Regions from separate parts of the Homo sapiens genome. Here regions 2 and 3 are each linked to region 1. The links come from fine-mapping of genetic effects on gene expression. Tissue or cell type: whole blood. Region 1 holds a variant in brackets; each other region holds the start of a gene. All regions are shown on one strand. Distances are from middle to middle.

Evidence for each region. PIP is the estimated chance that this variant, and not a neighbour inherited with it, causes the effect.
Region 2: BCAS4 starts here. The variant in region 1 is fine-mapped to the expression of BCAS4 in whole blood (INTERVAL, PIP 0.91).
Region 3: it holds the start of ADNP, and the variant in region 1 is fine-mapped to the expression of ADNP in whole blood (TOPMed, PIP above 0.99).

What each region holds. Positions count from the first base shown.
Region 1 is chr20:50,878,493-50,881,247 of GRCh38, reverse strand. It overlaps a transcript of BCAS4 not described here. Among named protein-coding and RNA genes, the nearest start is that of ADNP-AS1, 51 kb to the left of the region's middle. RefSeq lists enhancers at 867-1,366, 1,367-1,868. The variant G/C (reference allele first, on the strand shown) is at 1,607.
Region 2 is chr20:50,793,409-50,796,035 of GRCh38, reverse strand. It overlaps BCAS4 (breast carcinoma amplified sequence 4), which reads right to left and starts at 975. Exons shown (of 5, transcript NM_198799.4): 1 at 863-975. The coding sequence starts at 952. RefSeq lists a silencer at 423-1,242.
Region 3 is chr20:50,930,134-50,932,760 of GRCh38, reverse strand. It overlaps ADNP (activity dependent neuroprotector homeobox), which reads left to right and starts at 1,324. Exons shown (of 6, transcript NM_001282531.3): 1 at 1,324-1,935. ADNP-AS1 (ADNP antisense RNA 1) reads right to left here and starts at 1,777. Exons shown (of 3, transcript NR_110009.1): 1 at 1,707-1,777; 2 at 1,312-1,386. RefSeq lists silencers at 836-1,015, 879-1,066, 1,366-1,585, 1,736-1,785, 1,926-2,105 and enhancers at 1,166-1,285, 1,705-2,495.

The sequences.
Region 1 (2,755 bases):
CGTTTTATTTTACTTTCTAAGACAGGGTAACACTTTGTCACCCAGGCTGGAGTGCAGTGGCACAATCTCAGCTCACTGCAGCCTCAAGTTCCCTGGCTCGAGCAATCTTCCCACCTCCCACCAAGTAGCTGGGTCTATAGGCAAGCACCACCATGCCTGGCTAATTTTTCTATTTTTTACAGAGAAGGGGTTTTGCTATGTTGCCCATGCTGGTCTTGAACTCCTGAGCTCAAGCGATCCACCCACCTTGGCCTCCCAAAGTGGTAGGATTCAGGTGTGAGCCACTGCACCCGGCCAATAGATTCATTTTATACATTAAGCTCCTAATCGATTTACAATCCAGGTGTGCTGAGTGAGGTATGGAGCTCTATTTTTTCCAGAAGTTTACCCAATTGTCACAACATGAAAACATCTTAAAACAATTCAGGGCAAACCACACATTTCTGCCAATCAGATACAACCCCATGGGCTGCTACCTTGAAACCTCTTGCTTTGGTGAGCACGAAGTTCACATCCGCTGGGAAAGTGGGAAAGGGGGTTGACCGAAGAGCCTTGCTCTTGGGAAGAAATCTGCAGTGACCTTTCTACTGGTGTCCCTGTCCAACATCAGCCACAAAAGAAAAAGACTGGCAGGCCTCGGTGGCTCACGACTGTAATCCCAATACTTTGGGTGGCCAAGGTAGGAGGATCGCTTGAGCCCAGGAGGTTGAGACTAGCCTGGACAACATAGCAAAACCCCGTCTCTGTTTAAAAAAGAGAAAGATCAGATCACCCTTTCCTAGGCTGCAGTTACCCTTACCAAGGGGTTAGAGGCCATCAATAGTCAGCAACCGAGGACATCATTGACTGGACAATGGAAATGTCAGGCACTTTGCTTTAATGAGGACGCACATGAAGTCACCTGGCACAGGGACAGTGGAGCCGCTCAGAGGACTGAGGTTAGGGGTTGGTGATGGCAGGGCGCAGTGTCCCGGCCTTCCTTCTCCCCAGATGTTTCCAAGCGTCCCTTAAAGCTCATTGTTTGGCAGTGCAAATCCTAGGAACTTTGGAACGGCTACTTCCAGTTCACTTGTCACCTTTTCCCCATAGATTTCCTGTGCAACCTCACCCCTCCTAACAGGACAGGGAAACCCAGAGAGAGCAGCCTCCATTCTCCCATGACTTCTAACTCTGACACGTAAGGGCAGTCCCTGAGTCACTCGCTGTTCAGGCCCTCGGATGCCGCTGGTCAACTGAGAAACGCAGGACAATCAACCCTTTCCCCATCACAGCCCGGGCCCTGCAACAGCAGCCTCCCATTACTGAGAGCCCCTCGCCAGTGTGCCCAGCATGCACACAGCTCACCTCATGTCACCCTCACCACAACCCATCAGACCAGAGCCATCCTCATGTCTTACCGCAGGGGCAGCTGGACTCAGAGAGAGCAAGTGAAAAGCCCAGCTCACACAGCTAAGAGGCATGGGAGCGGACAGTGCTGCCAGGCAGGCTAACCTCAGGGCCATGCTCCTAGCGTGGGGCCTGTGGGTCCCTGCTTTAGGACACTCAACGTTGCTGCGGCTTAATCACATGGGATTTCCTTCCAACTCTCCCTGGCCCCTGTTTCAGG[G/C]GCTGGGAGGAGAAAGAAGCCTGGGAGTGCCCAACACTCAGCAGATACTCACCCTTCCGGAAATGAGTGTCCTCAACTGCTTGTCTAAAAAATTAACATTAGCTTTCTCCTTTTTCTTCTTTTTTGAGATAGGGTCTCGCTCTGTTGCCCAGGCTGGAGTGCAGTGGCACGATCTTGGCTTGCTGCAACCTCCACCTCCCAGATTCGAGCGATTCTCCTGCCTCAGCCTCCCGAGTAGGTGGGATTACAGGGGTGCACCACAGCACCTGGCTAATTTTTGTATTTTTAGTAGAGATGAGGTTTCACTATGTTGGCCAGGCTGGTCTCGAATTCCTGACCTCAAGTGATCTGCCCACCTTGGCCTCCCAAAGTGCTGGGATTACAGGCGTGAGCCACCTCACCCGGCCAACTTTCCATCCAACGTGTGCTCTCCCTGAGCACACTGGGGCATGCAGAGTGTCCAAGCTCCCTTCGATAAAAACAGTCCCAGCCAATACAACACAGCCATGGGAATGATCTACAGTGACACAGCAACAGTGACACCTCCCAAGGTAACATCAAGCCGGTGAGGCCAGAGACAAGAGATGACACACCGTAGGTACACATCCCGTGTGTCCTCTCTTTATACAGAGCACAGAAACAAGAAACTCCAGTCCATATGGTTAGATGTCAGTATGCTGTCAGCCTGGGGTGGGGGTGGGTATGGGCATGGACCAGAAGCGGGCATGAGGGGGCTGCTCAGTGCTGATAATGTTGGTTGCTCAGTCTGGTGAGGCTTAAATAGATACACTCAGTTTGTGAAAAATTTAGTGAACCACTTAGGCACCCCTTTCTGTAATATAAATTATACTTCAATAAAGGTTTGTGCCAACACTACATTTTGGGAGGCCGAAACAGGAGGGTCCCCTGAGCCCAGAAGTTCAAGACCAGCCTGAACAACATAGGGAGACCCTGTCTCTACAAAAAATAAAACAAATTTGAAAAGTTGCCAGGCATGGTGGTGCACATTTGTGGTCCCAGCTACTTGGGAGGCTGAGGCAGGAGGATCACTTGAGCCCAGGAGCTTGAGGTTTCAGGGAGCCATGATCACACCACTGCACTCCAGGCTGGGTGACAGGTGTCTCATTTAAAGAAAAAAAAAATTGTAAA
Region 2 (2,627 bases), 85 kb after region 1:
CCTCACTGCAGCCTCACTCTTCCCCGTCCCCTATCCCCATCCCAAGCAATCCTCCTGCCTCAGCCTCCCAGAATGCTGGGACCACTGGCATGAGCCAATACTCTGCCTAGGCAGATACAGATATCTACATTTGTAAATGCATTTTAAATGTCCGGAATGATTTATACCAAACAGTTAATGCTGGTTTTCTAAGAAAACTAGAATTGGGGTGGGAGAGAAAAGAGAAAGGGGTGCATAGCCTTTATGTTAAATACTCCTGTACTGCTTTTGTGGTTTAAAAAGAGAATGGGTTGAATTTCTGACCGTAAATAACTCCTAGTGAACTCAGACAAATAACTTTTTCACAACAGCGTCGACAGATGCCTCCAGCCGGAAGGTAGAGGGTCTCGTTTTAGATCTGCTTTTCACTTGGTGCTTTTAAAATAGAAAGCGCAGACAGAGGCGTGGTGTTTTCGCTCCGAGCTGCAGCAGCGCAGCGCGGCCCGCACAGCCGCAGCCTGAGGCGCCGCTCGGCCCGGGCACCGCTCGGAGGTAGCCGGGGCAGCAGAGGTCCCGGGGTCCGCCTCTCCCAGGGCCGGCCTGGCAAAGGGCGGCGCCTGAGGACCCGGCGGATGCTGGGGGACCCGGGTGGGGAGGGAAAGCGAGCCTGGGCCTCCGGGGCCCGGTGTCGCCCGGAGGAGCGAGCAGGGACGACCCGCTGCACATCTCTGCGTGGCGCCCCGCAGCCACCCTTCAGGAAGGGGGGAATCCCCGGGCCCCCCACTCCGGGAGCGAGAGGATGCTCCGGGGAAGCCGAGGGTCCGGAGCCCGGACCCCTAACCGCGAGAACCCTCTCCTCCAACTCCACAGCCCCGTCCCCTACCTCGGCCCCAGGCTCGGGGGTCAGGAAGAGCGCGAGCTCGCGCGCCCCGCTGCGCATGGGCTCCGGCTGATCAGCGTCCACGAGCAGCATCAGGAGGGCGACGGGGTCCGGCTGGCGGAGGCTGCCTGGGAGCCCGTGGTTGCGCCCGGGCCTCGGAGCCCCGCCCCCGGTCCGCTGCATGCCCCGCGGACCGCCTGGCGGAGGCGGGGCAGGTGCGCTCCCGGCGGTCGCGGCTCGCAGCTCCAGGAGCGCCGGGCCGAGCGGGCAGCGCCACCCAGTGGCGAGCGGCGCGCGCTGCGCCCGCCCCCGCAGCACCTGGGCATCAGTGCTTTGCAAACTCGCTTGCAGATGGCAGTCACCTGGAGCTCTTTTAGAATTTCCCAAGCCTGGACCACACCGTCTCTGGGTTAAGACCTGGGCATCAGGATCTTTTGATGTTTGTTAGGTGGTTCCAACCAGATTGTTGACCCAAAGCTAAATTTGAGAACTATTGGGGCAAGCCACCCCTCCCCATCGGAATCCCGGTAGAGTACAGGCTCCCGGCCCCGGACCCGGCCGTAAAATAGAATCCCCGGGAAGCTTTTAAAAGCCCGGAAGCCAGGCCTCGCACCAGGCCGATTAAGTTGGAATCCTTCGGAGTGGGGCTTGGGCATCGGTAGTTTCTAAAACTCCCCGGGTGATTCTAACGGGCGTCCGGGTTAGAGAGGCGCTAGCTTAGAGGAAGCCCAAAGCCGCCCGCCCCCCACCCGTTCCCATCCTACTAAAGCATCTAGTTTGCATCGGGCGGAGGGTCCTGGAATTTAGGGAAGGCCGAGTGTGACGGTCCTCGTCTTCCTCTTCGGTGCGGATTTTAAAATAAACTTCACCAGGAAACTATTGAGCGCACTACATTTCACAACCGCACCCACTCCCTCCATGCCCTCGGAGGCCGGCCTAGATAGACCCTTTACAAGCCTTGGGGCTGAAGAGAGCGAGGTGCGCCTCATCTCCCACCCCAACAGTGCTAATGAGGAAAGTACTAAAAGGCAAATAGGTATAAGACAAGTCTGAAGTTTTGATTTTTCGTTTGATGACTTATTTTTATTTTTAATTAATTAATTTTTTTTTTTTGGAGACGGAGTCTCGCTCTGTCGCCCAGGCTGGAGTGCAGTGGTGCGATTTCGGCTCACTGTAACTTCCACATTCCGGGTTCAAGCAATTCTCCCCCTCCCTCAGCCTCCCGAGTAGCTGGGATTACAGGCGCCTGTCACCACGCCCGACTAATTCTAATTTTTGTATTTTTTAGTAGAGACGGGGTTTCGCCATGTTGGCCAGGCTGCTCTCGAACTCCTGACCTCAGGTGAGCCACCTGCCTCGGCCTCCCAAAGTGCTAGGATTACAGGCGTGGGCCAGCGCCCCCTGCCTGCTGACTTTTCTTTAAATGTTAAATCGCCTCACAAAAAAAAAAAAAAAAAAAGGCTGAGCTGCTTGGGCAAACATAAGGAGACTCCATCTCTCTAAAAGAAAAAAAAAAATTAAAATTGCAGGATGTGGTGGGGCACAACTGTAGTCCTAGCTACTGGAGAGGCAGATGCAGGAGGATTGTTTGAGGCCAGGAGTTCAAGGCTACCGCGAGTTATGATCGCACCACTGCACTCCAGCCTGTGTGACACAGTGAAACTCTGTCTTTTGTTGTTGTTGTTGTTTTTTAAAAAGGAGGGGCTGGTATCAAGGGTGCAAATAAATATATAGGACGTCCCACACCTTCCTCTCCATTAAATCTGAA
Region 3 (2,627 bases), 52 kb before region 1:
TACATTTTATCACAATTGCAGAAATGTGTTGTATAAAAGTTTGTTAAACAGGGCTAACTGAAGTCTTAGATGTTGAACAGCTATGTGTAACCACAATTTATACTACTTGCAGCGAACTCAGATTATTTTCGGATGTTAAGTATGGCTTGAAACTATGTTAACTTGAAATGTAAAGAAACAGCAAAAGACAGGTGTATTTACCTAAAGATCACATATTAAGGAAACAGGCTTGGTTAATTCCTCACTATTGACATCTATTACTTGTCAATACATTTAACCAACCAATGATACTTTAAATCATAATGTTACTTTGAACAACCTACTTTAAAAGGTTGGTTCAAAAATGTTGAGGAGATAATGTATTGGTTGGGATTGACCTAAATTTACAAAGCAACCATGTGCTGTCTTATGCTACCCAGATTGTGGGAGCACCAAAAGCTATGTCCCTAGGACTACAAAGTGTGTTGTTTAAGGATCTTGCAGAGAGCCAATGCCCCTATTGGCAACATCACTTCTCATCCTTAAGTTTCACCAGTTGGGTGGCCTCAAGGCACTAGGATTCCCATTTTTTTTTTTATTCAGGTCAGAGAAGAGTCCATCACTGTGACTGGGAAGAATGTCAAGTCACAGGGTAACGGCGGACCTTAATAAAATCTCGGCCCCTCTGCACCGAATACCCCACCAGGAAGGGCTAAGGCATCCATGGGGTTGTGTCTCATCTCAAGTCGCTGTGTGAAGCACGAGGCCCTCACACCTCATTTAAGGCAGGAGGCGTCAGGGGCGACCGGCCAGGTGTCCCGGCGCCTTCCCGCCGCTTCTCAGCCGTGGAAGCGCGGGCATCTGAGCACGTGGAGCCGCCCCAGGCCGCCCCGCACACCCCTCCCGCCAGATGTAGTCCAGGCCCAGCTGGGCCCGCGCAGGGATCCCCAGCACGGCCACCTGACTGAGTGCTGGGCGTGCTGCGGCCCGCTGCTTCTGCCTCCGCCGCCGGCGCTGCGGCCAGAGGAAGGCGCCCGCCGAGCACACGGGCCCCGGGAGCGCACTGCGGCCATTATCCGCGGCGCCTCCTAGTGGGTCAATGGCAAATCCGCCTGGTTCTCGCGAGAGCTCCCCCCTCAGTGGGGATTATATAATTTCCCTCAAGCGGGGGTGGGGGTGCTGAGAGCACCCTCCCTCAGGAAAAGTTAGGTGCAAGCAGGGGTGGGAGTAAGAGGAACCCCCCCTGGGGAAAAGGGGGTTAGGGGTGCTGTCCCCACTGCCCCCCCCTATTTAGCTGGACAATGAGTCCTCTTATGCTAATGAGGCACTTACGTCACTTCCGCTCTTTCTCGGCCGCCATTTTGGCTAGGGCAGGTTCGGGGACTCGGTCCGAGGCGCTTGTATTGTCTGCTGAGGGGAGACGCGGGATCAGCCCCCTCCCCCGCCCGTTGCCGCCGCCGCCTCCGCCGGCCCGGTCTCCCCTCCGCCGCCCGCCGGGATCCATGAGCTGAACTCCCGCCCCCCCCCCCCCGGCCGCCGCCATCTTGTGCCCCCTCCCCCTCCCGCAGGCAGCGCTAAGGGGGATTTTGGCGTCTTCTCAGACACAGCTCCCTCTCTCGGTCCCCGCTGCTGAGGAGCGAGAGGAGCGCGGCCGCCGCCGCCCGCGCCGGTGAAGCCGCCTCTCCCACACCCTCCGTCTCCTCCCTCCGCCCCTCCTTTGTCTGCACCGCTCGACGACGCCGCCGCCGCCCGCCGCTCTGCTGCGCCCGCCGCGCCCCCCGGCAGCACCCGCGGCCGCGGCGCGAGCCGGAGTCCGCCGAGCCGGAGCGCGACGAGGCCCCGGGCGCGCCCTCCCCGCTGCCGCCACCGCCGTGCCGCCGCCATCCGCCCGCCGCCGCCGCCGCTGTCCGGCCCCCGAGCACGCCGGCCCCGCGCGCGCCTCGAGGCCGAGTCAAGGTAAGCCCGGCGCCGCCGCGCGCGGACCCGCGGCCCTGCCCTGCCTGGCTTCCCGACCCCGGCCCGCGCGGCCGCCAGTGCAGCCTGGCCCCGGGCGCGGGCGCATTGTTGTTCGCATCGCCGCCCTCCAGCCGCACACACGCTCCTTTGCACACCCCGGCGCCGACGGGTCCCCCGTCCCGGCACGGACCGCTACCCGACTCTGCTCCGGAGGTCCAGGCGCCTCCTCCTGCAGCCCGACCCCCTTCTCCGCCCTGTGAGCCCACCGAGGCCAGCACTCTGCCTGGCCGCCCGGAGCTTTTGCAGCTAAGGGCATCTCCCCCAGCCAGAACCGAGCTTCTCCCATCCTGGAACTAATCCCGTCCGCCCCCCACCCCCAAAAGGAGCCCCCCCACGCACACCCCCATGCCTTGAACCAGCCTTCTGCCAGGTCTGCCCACCCTTACCTGGGGGAGGGGGGACGGGGTTGGGGGGGGCGGGGAGCATGCATGGCATGGAGTGAGTCTTTGCCTCCCCTGTGCAATCCTTCTTCCCCAACCTGCCAGCTTTCCTCTTATCCTGACCACAGTTCACCACCATCCCTTTTCCCCAATCTCAGCTGCCTGGTCAGCACCTCTTTCGAACATTCTGAGCCCCAACTTTGCAGTAAGGTGGTAGAAAATGGAAATCCAGAGAGCTGCAAAAAGATTTTT